3 linked regions of the Homo sapiens genome follow. The protein of the gene in region 1 purifies or fractionates together with the protein of each later gene. This does not show direct contact. Each region holds a gene or a part of one and is shown on either strand. Other genes may lie near its edges.

What was found.
Region 2: the proteins of NGEF (region 1) and ACTR10 purify together in Homo sapiens (affinity purification with mass spectrometry; 2 studies listed by BioGRID and IntAct, with this or other methods). This does not show direct contact.
Region 3: the proteins of NGEF (region 1) and MRS2 purify together in Homo sapiens (affinity purification with mass spectrometry; 2 studies listed by BioGRID and IntAct, with this or other methods). This does not show direct contact.

Annotation. Positions count from the first base shown.
Region 1 is NC_000002.12:233,010,180-233,017,378, forward strand, and holds the start of NGEF (ephexin-1), read right to left. Parts: upstream 3,078-7,199; 5' UTR 2,889-3,077; exon of another isoform or gene 2,435-2,888; intron 1-2,434. UniProt on the Homo sapiens protein: Acts as a guanine nucleotide exchange factor (GEF) which differentially activates the GTPases RHOA, RAC1 and CDC42. Plays a role in axon guidance regulating ephrin-induced growth cone collapse and dendritic spine morphogenesis.
Region 2 is NC_000014.9:58,203,047-58,210,158, reverse strand, and holds part of ACTR10 (actin-related protein 10), read right to left. Parts: intron 2,224-7,112; coding exon 2,141-2,223; intron 1,161-2,140; coding exon 1,052-1,160; intron 1-1,051. UniProt on the Homo sapiens protein: Part of the dynactin complex that activates the molecular motor dynein for ultra-processive transport along microtubules.
Region 3 is NC_000006.12:24,405,912-24,413,023, reverse strand, and holds part of MRS2 (magnesium transporter MRS2 homolog, mitochondrial isoform b precursor), read right to left. Parts: intron 4,617-7,112; coding exon 4,580-4,616; intron 3,564-4,579; coding exon 3,451-3,563; intron 2,298-3,450; coding exon of another isoform or gene 2,225-2,297; intron 803-2,224; coding exon 629-802; intron 1-628. UniProt on the Homo sapiens protein: Magnesium transporter that mediates the influx of magnesium into the mitochondrial matrix and regulates magnesium metabolism. Also permeable to calcium, sodium and potassium ions.

The sequences.
Region 1 (7,199 bases):
AGCACGCCCAGCTGGCATCTTTTAAACAGACCTCATGCCTCCCCTGTCTCTGCCTCCACTGGCCCAACCCTTACTGCAGGGCTCCCTCCCTTTTGCTAAAACCCTGCTGTCCCTTCACCTGGAATGTGCTATCTGTGAACGTATGCTATTTAGAGAACCTGGAGCATTCATTCTGAGTGAGTGTGAAAAGAATTACTACCTTATTTTCAAGGTAGTAATGCTTGCTTTATAATACATCAAACCACACCCCCAGTTCTTCTCCTCCTCCTGGAAAATCATTAATAAGTGATGGAAGATTGTTGAATGATGGCCAGCTCAGAGGCCACCTCCTCCATGCAGGCCTTGCTGATCATCCATCCCTTTGATGGTGCCCATCCTCCTCATTTGAACGTGTGATTTTTTTTTTTCCTTGTCCACAGGCAAAGTGAGTTGAGGCAGGAAGATTGTGAGATGGCCTCACCCAGGCTCCCAGGTCCTTAATCAACCACCTGAGCTAGTTTCCCAAAAGCAGCCCACAGAGGGTGCTCCAGCAAATGGCCCCTCCTCAGTGCTCAGACCCCATGTGGTCTCCCACGGCCCTGGCCTCCAGGATGGCTGCCAAACAAAGGGAGGAGGAGTAAGGCTGAAGTCCTCAGCCTTCTGGGGTGGGTCCTCCAGTCTGGAGGCAGAATTCCACCCCCTGGTCTGACCTCTCCCAAGGTGGGGAGAGGTGGTCCCAGGCCAAGGGAAGGAATTTTTCCTGAGGCCCAGCAGCCTCCTGAAGACACCATCATGGTAGCAGAGGGGGCTTAGGTGCGGGGAGAAGGGGGGTCTGAAAAGAGGCAGCCCATCCAGGCTCAGAGATGGAACCCCCTGCTCCGCTGGGCCACGGTGCCTCTCAGCCTCAGGATCCTATCACCGTTGTTGGGGTGAGAGGGCTGGTGTGCTCTTTTCACCAAGCGGGGTTTCTGGCCTGGCCTCGGGGGTGTGGGACACAGCATCGCTTCATCTCCACTAGCCTGAGGGCCACCATTGTCCCATCTGTGTCCCCAGCCCCACTTCAAAGCCTCACACATACACTGTGCACAGCAATTATCTATGAAGGAGTAAAGGAATTTTTGCCATTGGGGTTGTGCTGGGGGGTGACTTCAGAGCATCAGAGCTGACTCCTTACTCGGGAAGCAATGGGCCCATGTAGATGGGGAAGGGACGTCATCTTGGGAGACGGGATGTCCGACTTGGTGCTGGTGGCTCACCAGCTTCTTGGGACAAACAGCAGCTCCTGCGCCCCTGGTAGAGCCAGCAGGCTTGGGTGGTTAGGTTTGGTCTCCTCTGAGAGGCTCTGGGTGGCCCCACAACATCTGGGCTATTTTGTTACTGGTACAAGCTTCCGGTCTCCCACAGGCCAAGGGAAGTTCTTAAAGCAATGAAAAAAAAAAAAAAAAAGGAACAGAGACAGAGTCTTGCCAGGTTGCCCAGGTTGGAATGCAGTGATATGATCATAGCCCACCGCATGACTTCTGGGCTCAAGCAGCCCTCCTGCCTCTGCCTCCTGAGTGGCTGAGACTACAGGCATGCATCAGCTCTTCTTAAAGCAATTCATCTTCCCCCATGTCTAGCCTCATCTGTGTCCCCAGCCCCACTGGGGCAGAAAGCTGTGGAATGTTACTCACACTGTCATTGGATCAACCCCTGGCTTTCCTGTGGGGATCCCCTCCCTGGGAGGGGTTCCCATGACAATTTGGGCTCCAGAAAGGGATGTGGGAGGAGAGTGCGGTGGAGGGAGGTGGTCTGTGGTCTCCCTTCATGGACCAGAAAGCTTGACCCCCAAGGGGACCCTGGCTTCTACTTCCTCAGAGCTAAGCAGTGCCAAGGGGCAGCCTGAGACATGGGCAAAGGGGAAGCCTAAATGGAAAAAGAGAGAGAGAGAGAGAGAAAGAGAGAAGGGGCAGGGAGGACAAAGACACATGGCAAGTGTCCAAGCTGGAACATTCCCACCAGTGGCCTTATTGCATTAAGGATTTTCCCAAAAAGCAGAAATACACTGATAGTCAATGGAACATAGCAGAGCTGTCACGAGCCCAGGAAACACAAGTCCCACCTCTACACAGCCAGAGACTGTGTGACTGTCCCAAATTTTAAATCAAGATAGACAATAAGAACCTACCACTTTCACATCCAAGAAAACTGTGTCCCTACACATTTCAGTCACACCGTGCTGTGGCTTGAGGCCAGCCAGATGCAAAAATCAGGAAGGTTCTGAGGGGTAGGGCCTTCTGTCTTTCTGAAAGGGGCCCCTGAGCGGAGGGGGCAGTGCTGGGGGAGCTAAAGCGCAGTGGGCTGTCACTTCACGACTATGACTTCTGTTTCCCAAGTGCACTTCCTGACCCTGAGATTTGTGCCATGGCACACAGGAATCAGGGCACTTCCGTTTACATATACGCTCATTATCAGGACTGGCGTCGTGGGTGTGGGGCCTGGGCAGTCACAGGGCCCTGTTCTTAGAAGGTGCCCCGGCTTGCTTTAATGCTGTGTTGTTGTCCTTTTGAAAGCCTTACTATTTTAACAAGGGGCCCTGCATTTTTATATTGCACAGGGCCCTGCAATTATGCAGCCATTCCTGCTTTTGATCTCACTTACCCCACAGCCATAATGGAAGAGCGCCTGGAAGGAGTCCTTATCCTGATTCCCAGATGGTGAAACTGAGTGCCAGGAGGGGCAGTGCTGAAGCCGAGACCAGACAGGATCCCTCGGGTGGAATCCAGGGCTGCTGTTTCTCTTGGGGGCTCCTCCTCAGTGAATGGATGGGTGGTAATCTCCTTTCCTACCTGTCCTAGCGGTAGCCTCTGTTCCTTCTCTTGTTTTATCTCATTTTATTTTTTTAAAAAATACCAAAACCATTCTCTCACCTGCCAGAGAGGAGCTCATAGGAGTTGGGCTTCCTCAGAGAGTGTTCCTCCCTCGTCCCCTGTCCTGTCCAGGCACCTGCGAGCAGGATGGTGTGTCCCCGGCTAAATCCACAGGCGCTCCACTCTGTCCCAGAGAGCCCACAGCCAAAAACTTCGTCCTGTCCTGGAAAAGCTTCACTGGTAAGCATTCCCGACCTTTAGACCTGCCTTGGCCCATAGCTGGCCACGAGCCCATAACGATCACTTCCCGGCTGGGTGTTTACCTTCCTGGGCCCCATGGGTTGAGCCAGGGTGGCAGCCACATACCTGACACAAAAGTGGTGCAGGAGGGAAGGGCTATCTGAGGGGAAGGCTGGGCATGGCTGGAATACCCGCCGCCCGCCCAGTGCAAGATAATGCTGATGGTCACACCAAGAGGGGCCCGTGGCTCAGCTGGCCCACCAACCCCAAGCATTGGCCAAGCCAGCTGCACGGCCCTCAAATCTGAGATTTGGGAGAGGCTTTGGGGTCCTCCAGGGTTCTAGTCACTTCCTGCCATGGCCATCTGGCCTTAACTCAATCACTTCCAGGCATGGAACACTCACTGCTTTGTAAGGCATCTTGCTCCATTATTATTATTATTATTATTATTATTATTATTATTATTATTCCCTCTAATAGCTTCCTTTAATCCAGTGCTTACTACATGACAGGCACTGGGCTAAGTACATTACATAATCTATGTAATCCTTGTGTTGTCACTATGACCAGAGAATCATGCCCATTTTAAAGATGCAGAAACAGAGGCTCAAGAAATTGATCATCTTGCTCAAAGCCCCACAGCTAGTAAGTTGGGGATCCAGGATTCAAACCCAAGCCAACTAGTATCAAAACCACTACCATCATTTGCCAAGTTTAATTGCTACATCATCCATCTTTATATAAAACTCAAATCAGCGTTTGTTTTAGCTATCTGTTCTGGAAACAAATTAACTCAAAGTGTGTGGCTTGAAATAACACTCATTTGTCATCTCAGTTTCTGTGGCTAGAAGTCTGGGCACTGCTTGGCTGGGTTCTCTGCTCAGGGTTTCTCATAAGTTGCCATCCAAGTGTTGGAGGGGCTGAGGTCTCATCTCATGGCTCCACTAGGGGGGATCCACTTCCAAGCTGCTGGTGTTGGCAGGATTCAGTTTCTTAGGGCTGTAGGATGAAGGCCTCAGCCCCTCTCAGCTGTCAGCTGTGGCCACTATCAGTCCTTTGCCATGTGGGCCTCTCCGCCCTGGCAGCTCGTTGCATCAGAGAGGGCTATGGAGAGAGTCTGGGAAGAGGTAGGTCAGTCTTTTGTAATATACTCAAGGATGTGATATTCCATCACTTCTGGCATATTCTACTCGTTAGAAGGAAGTCATCAGGCACAGCCTACACTCAAAGGTAGGGGATTACACAGGGCACAATACCAGGGGTGGGGGTCCCTGAGGGCCATCTTTGAAAGTTCCCACAGCCATCTGATTGCCACAAAACATGGGTTTCAGTTTTGTCCCTGAAAGCCAGATTGAAGTAGTCTCTCATCTATTCTCTCACCCATCCATCCACCCATCCACCCATCCATCCACCCATCCACCCATCCATCCGTCCATCCATCCATCCACCATCCATCCACCCATCCATCCATCATCCACCCATCCACCCATCCATCCACCCATCCATCCATCCATTATCCACCCATCCACCCATCCATCCACCCATCCACACTTCCATCCACCCACCCATCCATCCACCCACCCTTCCATCCATCCATCCACCCACCATCTATCCATCCAACCATCCATCCATCCATCCATCCATCCATCCATCCATCCATCCATCCACCCAACCATCTACTCATCCATTCATCCACCCACTCATCCACCCATTCATCTACCCAACCATCTACTCATCCATTCATCCACCCACTCATCCACCCATTCATCTACCCATCCATCTACTCAACTACCCATCCACCCACCCATTCATCCATCCACCCATCCATCTATCCACCCATCCACCCATCCATCTATCCACCCATCCACCCATCCATCTATCCACCCATCCATCCACCATCCATCCATCCACCATCCATCCCTTCACCCATCCATCCATCCACCCACCATCTATCCATCCATCCACCCACCCATCCACCCACCAATCCACCCACCCACCTACTCATCCATTCATCCACCCACTCATCCACACATCCACCCACTTATCCACACATCCATCTACCCATCCATCTACTCATCCACCCATCCACCCACCCATTCATCCATCCACCCATCCACCCATCCAGTCATCCACCCATCCATCCACCCATCCACCCATCCATCTATCCATCCACCATCCATCCATCCACTCATCCACTTACCCATATATCCATCCAGCCATCCATCCACCCATCCACCCATCCATCTATCCATCCACCATCCATCCATCCACTCATCCATTTACCCATATATCCATCCAGCCATCCACCCAGCCATCCACCCATTTATCCAACCTTTCCTTCATTCATTCAACAAACATTTGAGCAGGGCACTATAAACCAGATCCCGCATTAGGCTCAAGAGATATTAAAATAAGTGCATTAACTCCCTCTTTCCCCTCTCTGTCCCTTGCCACCAAAGCCTTCCAACAGAGCCTTCCTGCATGCCGAGGTTGAAGAGGTGTCCGCTGAGTGCTCTGTCTTCTGGGAATTTTGGCTGTTTCCTGCAACCTATCATCAGATGCCACACTTATGAGACCCTCATCCTTCTGCTCACTCTCTTCCATTGTTTCACTCATTAAAAATATATATTTTAAGCAATTCCTAAATGTAAGTGTTTGTAGCGGGTGTGTGTGTGTGTGTGTGTGTGTGTGTGTGTGTGTGTGTGCGTGTAGGAATAGATCTGAGTGGGACCATGGGGATGCAGCAGGGACCTCCTGGGTGGGCAGGGCCAGCAAGGGGCACAGGTAGAGGCCTGAGCCCTGGACTCACCTGCCTGTGGACCTGTCCCCACAACCCAGCTCCCCAGGCCCAGGGCTGAGGGAATGAACTCGTGAGAAGAGGGTGAAGGGGCCAGTGGGGTTGTCATGTTCAGGTGCCCAGTGGGATGACTTTGAAAATTAAAATTATAAGTCTTTCACGCAGGAGACCATTTCTTTCCTATTGAGCACCTAGTACCAGTAGGTACTGTGCTAGGCCCTGGGGCTGCAATTGGGTGGCTTTCTAAAGTGAATCTAATTTCCTTTTTTGTCCTTTGCTCTATCTCACTGCCTCAGAACAGGCCCCCATCAACTCCTACCTGACAATTGCAATGTCCTTTAAATGGGTCTCTTGGCTTCAGTCTCTCCCAATTGCTTCCAGCCCTCAGCACCCCATCCCACTCAGTAGCCATGTGAATCTGCTGACACAGATCTGATCTTGTCACTTTCTTGCTCAAAAACATTTTATATAACCTACGTTAACAGTTTTATGAGTGTTCTTCCAGAAATGTTCTATATATACATAATCTCTACCTCCCTGCCTCTCTCTCCCTCTCTCTCTCTCTCCCTTGCATGTCTGTGTGCATACACACACACACACACACACACACACACACACACACACCTATATCCTTTGTTTTACTTAGGCAGGATCTCAACATGTATGTTCTGTTCTGTATTACTGTTTTGGTGGTTTTCCAATTTAGCACACTTTGAAGTTCTTCACTGTTTTTAATGGCTGTCGGCTGTTGTGCTATAGAAATATTCTGGGATGGTACTGAGAAATCCCTTTCAGGGCCTGGGGTGTCCTTGACCCGAAGCTTTTGTGATGCTTTTCTGAGTGATAATTTTGATAGATCATTAATGAGCTTAGTAGTCATAAGCCAATTGTTTCAAAGGAATTTTCATAATTTTGCATTTGTAGGAATTGAATAATTAATATAATGAGTTTAATTCATTATAAGACTTTTTTTTTAAGATGATAAAATACCTTCTCATGTTAAGTTTGCTTTAAGGGGTGGGAAGAGGAGAAGAATCTAAATGTTTTAATTGTTATTGTTTTGGTTATTTGAAAAGTAAAATTTAAATATATAAAGATGATGGACCAGGCCTGGTTAAGAAAAAGAACTGAACAGAAGCAGGAATACTTATCAAAACACCTACTGAGTACTTGTGAACCAGGCACTGTTCTAAGTGCTTTACAAGGATTAACATGTTTAATCTTCCCTACAGTCTTAGGATGAGGAAGCCAGATCTAAAGGGGTTAAAGCTTTCCCGAGATCCCATAAATTTTCTGGAACATACAGAAATGCTGCATATATATTTTTTGTAATG
Region 2 (7,112 bases), on another chromosome or scaffold:
TAAATAAAGTAGGTATTCTAGTCATATAGAAGATATTAACACAAACTCTAATTATAAATACAGAGAATATTCTACTTTATTCAGATAACAGCTGACACGACTTCTTGTTTTGCTTTATGTTCTCCTTACTACAAATGAAATTCCTGGACTCATGACATCAGTAGGTACTGGAGGCTATGCAACCTGATTCCCTGTACCTGCTTTACAAAAATATAACTTAGAAATATTAAGTGCCTTTACCTCATAAAGACATTGTGATTTTTGGTATTAGGTATGTTTTGAATTCAGTAAATGTATGAAAATACATTTATATGTGCTTAATTTCTTATTCACTTAATACATATAATCTTACATTTTCCCTTGCTGATAAAACCTAAATTTTAAGGCAAAGATTTTTAAAAATTTGAATAATTAAGATTCTGGTCTACTATGAAATATACTAATCTTAAAACATATTCTTGGTGATAAAATAATCCTGATTCCTATAAAATCAAAGCTACAGGTAATATTACTTATATTATGAGGTAAGTCTCATTCCTGGCATTACCAACTTACTCTAAGGGAGGCACTGAATATTCCATTTTAAAGGAATTTGAAGCCTAAAATGACAAAATTCAGAACAGTACAACTAAACAATGGAAGCTAGAAAGATCTGGAAGAAATACATTGCAAAGTCCACAGCACAGAATATACCTTTTAATTCTGAATAAAAAAAAGTCCCCAAATAGAAAAACCTATATTAAAATAAATAAACAGTAATAAAAAGAAATATCCAATTATGTAAGTGTTGGATGAAATGCTAAAGCATGAAATAACCACACAAAGGAAGAAAATAAATGGCCAGTTTGAAGAATCTTCTGTCATCTGGTTCCCCAACTACACTGTGTGCCATACACAATATGAGACAAAATAAGGGCTTTTATTAGTTTAAGTTTTGAGTACCTACCAACAAAAAAAAAGAGAAGAAAGATTCCCTAAAAATTGGTAAGAATTTTATTGCTTCTCTTTTTATTTCAAAAGCAATTTACTTATTTGATATAAAGACAGGTACCTCAAAATATTTGAAAAGAACACGAGTGAGTGTCTCTCTGAAGTGAGAAGGACATAATACCGATTCGATAATCACAACTCGGCGGTCTCTGGGATTCACCAATAGATGCCTGAAAAGTGAAAGTTTTGGTTTTAAAAGTAAAAGTTTTTATTCATTTTGTTAAGTCATACAATTTAAGAACAGTGAAACTGTACTACCTTAGCTTAAGATATTTTATCACAAAAAGACATCTTCATTTTATTACCCCAGAAAGATAACATTTCTGACCTCTTACTATGTACCGTGCAGTGTGCTAGGAAATTCATTAACTTACTTATCTCAGAAACCTAAAATTATAGCCTACTATGATTACCAACTTGAGCCATTATATAGATTTTTTTTTTTTTTTTGAGACAGGATCTGGCTCTGTTGCCCAAGTTGGAGTGCAGAGGGGCAATCTCACCTCACTGCAACCTCAGCCTCCTGGGTTCAAGCCATCCCCTGATCTCAACCTCCTGAGTAGCTGGTACTACAGATGTGAGCCACAGCACCTGGCGATATTTTCTTTTTTTTTAGGTTACAATAGTAATATATGCTCACAAAGCTCCAAATATTATGACACGTAAAACTTGCAAAGTACAAGAACCTTATATCTCTACTACTCAGAACTATCACTGATAGAAGTTTGTATTTTTTTTCATTCTTATGGATGTATGGGGGTATGTTTTAACAGAAATACTCATTCCATAGATGTGGTTCTTTAACTTGCTTATTTCACTTATCAATATATCCCACACACCTTCCTGTACTACTACATACAGATGCAGAACTCTTTTTAAAGAGCTGCATGGTATTTCACTGTATGAATGTAGAATAATTTAATTATCAGTTCACTTCATTAATGAATATTTCATTTTCAGTATCTCTTTATGTCTGCCAGTTTTCTAGTCTTCAAATATATTTTTGAAAAGGTTGAAAATAAGCATGTAAAAATGGCAATAGAAGTCCATTTTTTTTTTTTTTGGCCTCAGCTGTAACACAACCAATTATCACTATGGCATTAGGAAAATCTATCTAATCATAAAAGCTAGAAAACAAAATGTATCTTACCTGAAATATAGTATGTGGATGAATTCCTTTAGGTAGGAATATAATTCTTCTGTATTGATATTATACTGAACAACTCTGACAGGCTGTAAAAAATTAAAATGATTTATTAATTTATATTAATAAAATAACCTCAAATTAAGATTAAAATGTAATTATTTACTAATACATTTTCTGGGAATAAATTAAAAGCAATCTGTATTGAGAATATAAAAATTAAATACAGAGTAATCTCTTAAATTAGGAATCCTTAAGAATCGGAATGTCTAAGATGGCAGAATGTTTTAGTCTGTGGTAATGGAAGTGTGTGTTCATAGGAAGTAAAGAGCATGGCTCACATGCATTTTTCCTCCATCTGACTTATCATTTTGGCTTGAATGATAAAAATCAGCTTTGAGGCCAGGTGTGGTGGCTCATGCCTGTAATCCCAGCACTTTGGGAGGCCGAGGTGGATGGATCACTTGAGGTCAGGAGTTCGAGACCAGGCTGGCCAACATGGTGAAACGCTGTCTCTACTTAAAATACAAAAATTAGCCAGGCGTGGTGGTGTGTGCCTATAGTCCCAGCTACTCTGGAGACTGAGGCAGGAGAATCACTTGAAAACCCTGGAGGAGGCTGCAGTGAGCTGAGATGGCTCCACTGCTCTCTAGCCTGGGCAACAGAACCAGATTCCGTCTCAAAAAACAAACAAACAAACAAACAAACAAATTTCCAGCACTTTGGGAGGCCGAGGCAGGTGGATCACCTGAAGCTAGGAGTTCAAGACCAGCCTGGCCAACATGGTGAAACCCTATCTCTACTAAAAATACAAAAATTAGCTAGGCGTGGTGGCGTGCACCTGTAGTCCCAGCTACTCAGGAGGCTGAAGTGGGAGAACTGCTTGAACCCAGGAGGTGGAGGTTGCAGGGAGGCAGAGGTTGCAGTGAGCCAAGATCGTGCCACTGCACTCCAGCCTGGGTGACAGAGTGAGAACCTGTCTCAAAAAAAAAAAAAAAAAAAAATTCAGCATTGAATAAAAAGCATCAAAGGCTTCCTCAAATACTCAACTTGGTTCAGTCCCTGTTAGTCCAAAAACACTGATATCTTCTCTTTTGCAACATCGCCACACTGAATTACTTGTAAAATGTCCCCCTTTCTGCTAGATTATAAGCTCTATGCACAAGAACTATTTCTGGCTTGCTTATGATATATCTTTCTTCAAATAATACAGTTCCAGGTACATAGTTGTGGTTGTTCATAAATATGTGTGATAAAAATGACAACAAACACCATTAGCACAAAAGCAGCCTACACACATATTACCAAGCCATGAGTGCTAAGTCAATGCTAATATATAACAATGGCTTCACTTATGATCCTCAGAAAGCTCTCAGTACTCTGATGCATCATTGGCAGACCTCTCTTCATTTACTCTTTCAAAAGAAGTACCATCAGCCTAATTTCTTGATTTTATGTGGCTTAAAGAAGATTCCAAACCATATATAATCAAATATAAATAATTTTTTAGGTATCTGTCTTTTCAAATGAAGATAAAAACTCGTTCGGGCGCAGTGGCTCATGCCTGTAATCCCAACACTTTGGGAGGTCAAGGCGGGTGGATCACCTGAGGTCAGGAGTTTGAGACCAGGCTGGCCAACACGGCGAAACCCCGTCTCTACTAAAAATACAAAAAAAAAAAATTAGCTGGGTGTGGTGGAGGGCGCCTGTAATTCCAGCTACTTGGGAGGCTGAGAGAGGAGAATGGCTTGAACCCGAGAGGAGGAGGTGGCAGTGAGCAGAGATCATGATACTGCACTCCTGCCTGGGTGATGGAGTGAGACTCCATCTCAAAAAAAAAAAAGATAAAAGCTCAAAGCACCAAGGAAAGTGGCAACAAAAACGTACAGGGTCTAATCCAGTAAGAAATCTATCTGGTAACACAGTAATGCCAATTGTTATAAAGCAAAATGACATGAAAAATTAGTAAACAGGAACTTCCATCCCCCGCCCCCGTTTTTTTTGACATGGAGTCTCCCTCTGTTGCCCAGGCTGCAGCACAGTGGCATGATCTCAGCTCACTGCCACCTCCGCCTCCCAGATTCAAGCGATTCTCCTGCCTCAGCCTCCCGAGTAGCTGGGACCACAGGTGCCTGCCACTACACCTGGCTAATATTTGTATTTTTAGTAGAGATGGGGTTTCACCAAGTTGGCCAGGCTAGTCTCAAACTCCTGGCCTCAAGTGATCTGGCCACCTCAGCCTCCCAAAGTGCTGGGATTACAGGCATGAGAGACCACACCCGGCTTCCATCACATTTTTGAACATCAAACCACCAATATCTACCATATTTCTGGCTTGTCCAAGGATTTGCAGAAAAATTTAAAATCAATGAAATGATTCCTTAATCAAGTGTAATTAAAAAGATTTCTGGGCCGAGCGCAGTGGCTCACACCTGTAACCCCAGCACTTTGGGAAGCCAAGGCGGGCGGATCACGAGGTCAGGAGATACAGACCATTCTGGCTAACACGGTGAAACCCCGTCTCTACTAAAAAATACAAAAAATTAGCTGGGCGTGGCGGCGGGCAACTGTAGTCCCAGCTACTCGGGAGGCTGAGGCAGGAGAATGGCATGAACCCGGGAGGTGGGGCTTGTAGTGAGCCCAGATCATGCTACTGCACTCCAGCCTGGGCGACAGAGCAAGACTCCGCCTCAAAAAAAAAAAAAAAAAAGATTTCTGATGTATGTAAATGCCAAATATAAACTGCTGGTCTCGTCTATTCTGCTATAACATGTTTTTTTTTGTTTTTGTTTTTGTTTTTTTTGAGATGGAGTTTCGCTCTTGTTGCCCAGACTGGAGTGCAATGGCACAATCTCAGCTCACCACAACCTCCACCTCCCGGGTTCAAGTGATTCTCCTGCCTCAGCCTCCTGAGTAGCTGGGATTAACAGGCATGTGCCACCATGCCCGGCTAATTTTGTATATTTAGTAGAGATAGGGTTTCTCCTTGTTGGTTAGGCTGGTCTGGAACTCCTGACCTCAGGTGATCCACCTGCCTCAGCCTCCCAAAGTGCTGGGAGTGAGCCACCGCATCTGGCCAACATGTGTTTTTATAAAACCAAATATGCTTATATGCGATTGCTAAAAAAGGAAATAATGTCAGAAAAATGTTATAGTTGTATTAGTTAATATTAGGCAAGACAAGCTATAATTATAATGGAAGTATAACTTTCATCAAGAAAAAGAAAGTCATCAACTCAGTTATCACACAGGTAGATATGCTTTCAGATCTATTCATAAGAAAAGTGTAAATAACTCCCTACACCAGCAATTCGTGCCTCAGAGTGGATCCATGACTCTGTTGGGTTGCATTTCCTCCTAGTTGCTACTTAATAACAGTCCCACTGGCTCAGAGCTTGCTACCATCTGCACTGACTCAGAACCCACTGGCTAACATTTTCAATCCATGACTTTTATTTTTATTTGTTTATTTTTGAGACAGGGTCTCACTCTGTCGCCCATGGTGGAATGCAGTGGTGCAATCTTGGCTCACTGCAGCCTCAACCTCCTGGGCTCAAGTGATCCTCCCACTTCGGCCTCCCAAGTAGCTGGGGACTACAGGTGCGCACCACCTCCACGATTTTATTTTATTTTATTTTTTTGAGATGGAGTCTCGCTCTGTCGCCCAGGCTGGAGTGCAGTGGCGCAATCTCGGCTCACTGCAAGCTTCGCCTCCCGAGTTCACGCCATTCTCCTGCCTCAGCCTCCCAAGTAGCTGGGAATACCAGTGCCTGCCACCATGCCTGGCTAATTTTTTTTTTTTTTTTTAGTAGAGATGGGTTTTCACTGTGTTAGCCAGGATGGTCTCGATCTCCTGACCTCGTGATCTGCCCGCCTCGGCCTCCCAAAGTGCTGCGATTACAGGCGTGTAATCTGCCCAGCCCACAATTTTATTTTTAATATTCCCTAAGACAGCCTCCAGCCACACTCAGCTGCCTGCCAATCCTATTTAAATTTTGTGGAGGCATCAATTATTGTTTTTGCTAGTCCTCTGATTACAAAGTTACACAGGTTTTATATGGACTACCTCAAGCTTATTTTTCCCATAAGCCTGTTTTGTTTTGTTTTTTAAAAATGTACCATTTTGCAGAACAAAGGTATTTTCTGGAATGCATATATAATGTTACTGTGGTAACAGCTACATCTCATTTTTTAACAAGTGAATTTTATAACATGCAAAATCATTCTTTCTACTGGTTGTAATTTCTAATCTGCCAAATTAGCTGTGGCAAGAAACTTTTTGAAAGTTTGTTTTCAAAATTCTCTGGGTTTTGAAACTGTAAATAAGGGAATAAATATCTGATATATTATAAATAATAAAATAATTCAGTGGTTATAAGACTTATAAAAGTATTTTACTGAAGTTAAAATTTTTCTCTTGATATATGATTCCATTTACATAAAATGTACAGAAAAGACAAATCTATAGAAACAGAAGGTACACCCTAATGGGCTGAGGATAGGAATGAGGATTAATTGTAAACGGGTATTAGGGATTTTACTGGGGTGATGAAAACATTCTAAAACTGGATTGTGGTGGTACTTGTACAACATGATATACTTATGGTGTGCAAAATTAGACCTTGATAAAGTTGATTTAAAAAGAAAAACTTTTCCTTGGAAATATAGCCACAAAGTATATATTTAGTACTGTTTCTTGTTTCTTTTTTTTTTTTTTTTTTTGAGACGAAGTCTTGCTCTTGCCCCCCAGGCTGGAGTGCGATGGCTTGATTTTGGCTCACTGCAACCTCCGCCTCCCGGGTTCAAGCAATTCTCCTGCCTCGGCCCCCTGAGGAGCTGGGATTAGAGGTGCCTGCCACCACTCCCGGCTAATTTTTGTATTTTTAGTTGAGACAGGGTTTCACCATGTTGTCCAGGCTGGTCTCAAACTCCTGATCTCAGGTGATCCACCCGCCTCAGCCACCCAAAGTGTTGGGAT
Region 3 (7,112 bases), on another chromosome or scaffold:
GGCAGACAAAAGAAAAGTGTGCCAGGTTCACCCAACCCAATGCACCTCATGTCCTCTCTACCCTCTCTCCTCCTCCCACTCTGGTTAGTATGCTCCCAGCACCAACTCTTGCATGTAGCCAGTTCCTGAACAGTACCATCCTGACTTAACAGGAGGAAGAAAAGATAATGAAAGATTTGTGGGGTCAGGGAAGCAGAGAACCACCCTTGTTTAGAGCCTGACAGGAGTCTCAGACATCTAAGGACTCTTAATTTAAAGGAGGAGTCACTGGAAGAACTGTGCGTGATTCCTATGTCAATCTAGGTCTCAAAAAGATGCATCATTTACCTGGCTCAAACAAAGGATTGTACAAACAAATCAAAAAATGACTTGATGAAATGATTTAATAAAATAATTATCACATGTCAAGCATTTTTATAATATACATAGAGTCTTTAGTTCTATTTGACTGGGTCATAACATTTAAGAATTAAGTGATATCTCCATGTAGGATCCTTAGAGACGACTTGTTTCGGGGCAGGATGTGGTCAGGGGACATGCCATTGAAACAATACCCCAACTTGTCTTCCCACTCAATGACATTTCAAAATCAGAATAAACCCAAGAAGCTAAATAAAAACAGACTTACCCAATATTGCAGGAGTGCTTCTATAGCTCTAAACTCAAAAGGTAAAGGGTATGTAACGAGTTGACCCTCTCCAGACAACTGTGAAGGGAGTTCCCGGAACAGCCATTGCTCTAAGTTTAAATTACGATAATCTAATATCAGAAGACACTCTGGAGTTATCACAGCTTTCAAATACTGTTAAAAAAAAAAAAACCAAAACATATAAATATGTGAGTGTATATACACACATGCATGTATATACATATATATGTATACATACATATATATATGCAAATTGTAGAGCTGTAGGAAAAAAGAACATTCATAAAATTTGGTTTAATACTTTACTAATTGTGGATTAAGACTAAACCAAATCAGTGTTCATTTTTGTTTTTCAAAAAAATCAAGGTTTTTTTTTTCAAAAGAAAAGAAACTTAAAAAATATATGTCTTGATACTGCTAACTCACTCTCAATAAAACTGGAATTATTCACATAAATTATATATTTACTAAGACTTCTGGGGTAATCATGAAAAAAAAACAAAAACAAAAAAAAAAACACCAAAAAATACCCCCAGAAAGCCGGGCATGGTGGCTCATGCCTGTAATCCCAGCACTTTTGGAGGCTGAGGAAGGTGGATCATGAGGTCAAGAGATCGAGACCATCCTGGCCAACATGGTGAAACCCCGTCTCTACTAAAAATACAAAAATCAGTTAGGCGTGGTGGCCCACACCTGTAGTCCCAGCTACTTCAGAGGCTGAGGCAGGAGAATCGCTTGAACCTGGGAGGCGGAGTTTGCAGTGAGCTGAGATTGTGCCACTGCACTCCAGCCTGGCGACAGAGCGAGACTCCGTCTTTCTTTTTTGGAAAAAATAAATAAATAAATAAAGGGAACAAGATAAGGTCTTCCTAAAAGTCAGGTATTGAGCAGACTTTTAGAAAAGATTTAGTTTAATCATAATTAGTTTGGCACAAATGGAAGTTTCCTTTTTAAAACACCACTAAAGCATATAAACAAAATCTGAAATTAAGATGAAACATAGCCTTACTACTCTAATTTAGAACAATATGAAATTAGAATTTTTTCTAAAAAGACTGGTTATCTTGTATGTTAAAAGTAGATAAAGGTAGCCACTTTATCAGTGATATAGAAATTAGAGATAATTTTCTATTTTTACATTTTTCCAACATTCTATCATGAATTTTTTTTTCTTTTTTTTTTTTGAGATGGAAGTCTTGCTCTGTCACCCAGGCTGGAGTGCAGTGGGGCAATCTCGGCTCACTGCAACCTCCACCTTCAGGGTTCAAGCTATTCTCCTACCTCAGCCTCCTGAGTAGCTGGAATTACAGGCACCCGCCACCATGCCTGGCTAATTTTTGTATTTTTTAGTAGAGACGGGGTTTCACCATGTTGGTCAGGCTGGTCTCGAACTCCTGACCTCAGGTGATCCACCCCTCTCGGCCTCCCAAAGTGCTGGGATTACAGATGTGAGCCACCACAACCTAGCCTCATGAAAATTTTTATACAGAAAAGTTGAAAGATTGCAGTGAACACCATATACCCACCAGTTAGATTACACAATTATCATTCTGCTGAATTTGCTTTTTCACATACCTGTCTGTCTCTCCATGAAAGAGACACTGTTTTGAAGAATGCTAGCTACTGATTCCAAGAGTAGAGAATATTTCTGAAGAAAATCACATGGGAGAAGACTGCTTCATTTTTGATAAAGTATTTTTTATTTACTTATTTATTTTTAGAGATGGGATCTTGCTATGTTGCTTAGGCTGGTCACAAACTCCTGGTCTCTGGTGACCCTCCCACTTCAGCCTCCTGAGTAGCTGGGACTAAAGGCACATGCTACCAATACTGGCCCATTTTTTATTATTTTGATTAGTTCTAGAAAAATGAACAAAAATCTGCCATCAAAGACTCTTTGAAGAAAGTCTCATACCCACTACAGGGCCAATACCATTCATCTATTTTTGAACCTAAACATTAGCCCACCAAAATAACTGAAACCCACATTAACTCTGAATCACTAAAGAAAGTCAAATTATTATTTGGCATGCTCTGAATAGGTAAGGGAAAATACAATATATTTCAGAAAGTTTTCCATTAAAAAAATTTAAACTGGCCAGGCACGGTGGCTCATGCCTGTAATCCCAGCACTTTGGGAGGCAGAGGCAGGTGGATCACCTGAGGTCGGGAGTTTCAGAGCAGCCTGACCAACATGGAGAAACCCCATGTCTACTAAAAATACAAAATTAGCTGGGTTTGGTGGCTTATGCCTGTAATCCCAGCTACTCAGAAGGCTGAGGCAGGAGAATTGCTTGAACCTGGGAGGTGGAGGTTGCAGTGAGCCAAGATCGTGCCAGCCTGGGCAACAAGAGCAAAACTCCATCTCAAAAAAAAAATTAAGGCTATAAAATTTAATGTCTATTCCTGTGCTATTTAGAAAGCCAGAATACATTTTTGGTAGCTCAGGTTATACTATAATTACATGTAACTGTACACAATTGGATATATATCTATTATAAATCAGGATTGTCTTATAGTTTCCAGAACTAGAGAGTAAATCCCAACAGTGAGAATGAACACCACAGTCAGAGCTTTTCCAACTTAAAACACAGCAGTGTTATGCCTATTGAACATGTGCATATAATCCATATAAAATGAGTTCTACTCATAATAGCATATTAAGCTATAAAACATCCTATGTTTCAGGTAGCTATTTCTATTCCAAAATTACTTTTAACCTAGATACTAATCAAGATAGTTAGAAGGTAACTTTTATAAGATTGTATTGGAGAAACATAGATGAAAATAAAATATTTTACCTCCATTCTCATGATAATCCTATTGTTTCTGACTGTGATACTCATTACATGCTGAAATCTCAAATCTCTGGCTTGAAGACCTAACTCTTGGTATAATTCAGTTTTCTTCCTTTCTATAAAAGAAATAAACAGAGAGGGCTAAACCAAATACATTAAATGGCTTAGATTTTTCCATCAGAGCAGTCCTCCCACCACCATCAAGACAATTTTTGGTTACTACCAGAAACAAAAACTAAAATTAAGTCTTTTAATATCCATTTTTACCTAGAAAACATACTCGGGCTAAATAGAGTCAAACTAATGATTTTCTTATCTATACCTCATAACTTTCTCACTACTTAGAAGACCCTTGAGACTAATACAGAAACCACAACTATGCATCATTAGAACCTATAAATGTCCAGCTCTAGAGACAGGTTATCTCTCTTAAATATAAACTGTACACAACTATATTTTCTATTTTTACTACAACATCATCTTCAGTATTTTATATATGTGAACAGATAAGCTTGATTTTCTTTGTTCTTAGACTAATACAAAAATGAGAAAAGCTGAATTTATTACCTGAGACTGATTCATTCTCAAGGGAGATGTGAAACTCACATCTGAAGTCACACTGTAAAGTAATGCCTAGTCTCACTTTTTAAAGTAGCTGTCCACAGAGAGCCATCAGCAGCAGAGTTCCATGTGGCTGCCATGCAGTGACATGGCCCTGTTCATCTTTTGTCACCCACTGCAATGTCAGTGGTATTATGTGACTCTGCCTTAAACATGCTTCAGGAGAATGAATGAGGGCAGTGAAAGGGACGCCAACAAGAGAGACAAAAGAGAAAAAGAGTGTGTCTCTGGGCTCCAGTTCTACACCAGCCTCTGCTCTCCCAAATATTCCTTCAATAGCCTGTTAGAGCAAAAAGTGGCTCCTGCTAGAAGAAAACAATTCTGGGAGAATACACACAGTCTGAGTATTGCCAGCTCCAATTAAGACTGATGGACAAATGCTGAAGAAAGATCTCTTTCAACACACCTGTATATGCAAAGAATATTTTACTCAAAATACTACAATTTCTTGATTTCTATCAGATTCACTCATTAAATGTTTAAAAAATGATTTAGAATGCTAATCACTCACCAAAAGAAGTAACGTTTCCCTGTTTGTCAAATTTTGTCTGAAAATAGAGAATAAAACAAATTATGATTTTCTTTCAAATTAGAATGCTACTTATGGTATTGCTAATTTAGTTAAGAATTTATGGTATTGTAAGTAATATCCCCAAAATGTTGAAATGCAAATATAAACCATTACTGACCTTCTTTAGATTAAATCCAGTTATGAGTTAAGGGTTTTTTTAAAATCCTTTTTTCCTTTGATAGGAAAAATCAGACCTGGGTTTAACTTTCTATCTTGGTTCCTCTAGAAAGTTGATAAAGGAGTATCAGTTGTGTTGTTACTAGGTAACAATCCTTATGGTAAAAATGACCATTGACTGGTAGACTGCACTGGACTGGGAAGACGAACAAATTACAGTTATCAGGTGAAAAGCAATAGCTCTCTTTGCCCTTTCCTGATTGTGGTGGCTCTTGTGGCCATGTTCCCAGCCAGAATCCTGGACACTGTGCCCCTGCGATGGTTACAAGGGATACTGTCACTACGGGGCATGGGGATTCGAGCCAAGATGAATCTCACATCCACCTTTGAGAATCTTATCTCCTTGTCACTGAGCGATCACTCAGAGGACCAGAGAAGCCCCTGGATGGCTGCAAAGACTTCTTTTGAAGAGGAAACACCTAACACTACCCTGTTGTTTCTCCTGTCCCTTATCCTTCTGAGTAGACTGGGACCAAGTATGGCCCGCCTTGTGAATCTAAATGTCTACATGAGGCCAAAGTCTCTTTGGTGGGTGTTGCAGAATCAATAAAGATTTACAGAACCCCTTCTGATAGTTTGAAGAGAGGATTTGATACAGAAAATGCACCTATTTCCTGCAAAGTAGGGGACTATCTTTCAGTGATGTTTATCCACAGTCAAGTTTGAAGCTGTGAAACATTTAATGAATCACTATGTGCTGAGCTGTACTACTTACTACGACAGACACATTTCAGAAAGACACTCCAACATACAGGTTTAAGTACAATATAGGTCTTGGGTTACTACCATGGAAATATACATGCTGTGTTAATCACACAATAAAAACTCACAATATATATATTTTATCTTGCTTCTCATCAGCAAAAATAAAATTAATATGAATATATAAGTTCCATAGAACATTAAAGGAAAATTTATATCAAAGAAAGCTTTATATTTGTGTAATAGTCTAGCTTTCAGCCTTATATTTCACAAATACATAAACCCACTGCAGAAAATTTGAAAATAAATATACGTAACATAAAACTATATTAATCACCTGAAATGACAAATTTTAGAGAAAACCATGTCAATATTTCACTGAATATCCTTCCAAACATTTTCCTAATAAAACATACTTATACATACTGCTTTGCAGTCTCCCTCCTTCCAAATTAGCAACATATGCTGAATATTTTTGCATCTCAATATTTATATGTACCCTTTTTTTCTTTAATGGAACTTAAAAAAATTTTTTAAATCATACAAATTATAAAGAAAAAAATATTTACTTTGTAACCAGCTCACTTTCTAAACTATTTCAAACAGCACAAATTAAATTTTTCTTTCTCAGATTCCATAGCTTTATGAATTTCTTAAGTGTTCTTTGCAATTATTTCACCTGCAAAGAACTAACTTTCAGTATTTCACGTTTGACTTTGTATTCTTTTTTTGAGACAGAGTCTTGCTCTGTTGCCCAGGCTGGAGTGCAGTGGTGCAATCTTGGCTCACTGCAACCTCCACCTCCCAGGTTCAAGCGATTCTCCTGCCTCAGCCTCCTGAGTAGCTGGGACTACAGGCGTGCACCACCACGCCTGGCTAATTTTTTTGTTTTTTAGTAGAGACGGGGTTTCACCATGTTGGTCAGGCTGGTCTAAAACTCCTGACCTCAAATGATATGCCCACCTCAGCCTCCCAAAGTGTTGGGATTACAGGCGTGAGCCACCGTGCCTGGCCCTGATTTTGTATTCTTAACTAAATTGGCCAACTCTTCCAGAACAATGAATAACAGTGGTAACTTTTAAACGCAATTCTGGGGGTTATTTAATTTTATATAGTTTATAAAGAAAAGCTCTTATGTTAACAAGCCTAAATAATCCTAATGAAATATATTTGAGGCTTACTATATGTGAGGCACTAGTTTAAGGGCTTTCTATATATGAGTTAATTTAATCCTCATAACAATTCTATATGGTAGGTTATGCTCAGTTTTCAGATGAGAAAACTAAGGCACAAAGATGTTATTGTAACTTGTCCAAGGCCACCTAGTCAATAAGAGGCAGAGTGAGATTGGAATTTAGGAAGTCTGGCTCAGAATAGGCACACCTTTTTTTTTTTTTTTTTGAGATGGAGTCTCACTCTGTCTGCCAGGCTGGAGTGCAGTGGCATGATCCAGGCTCACTGCAAGCTCCGCCTCCTGGGTTCATGCCATTCTCCTGCCTCAGCCTCCCAAGTAGCTGGGACTACAGGCGCCCACCACCAGGCCTGGCTAATTTTTTGTATTTTTAGTAGAGATGGGGTTTCACTGTGTTAGCCA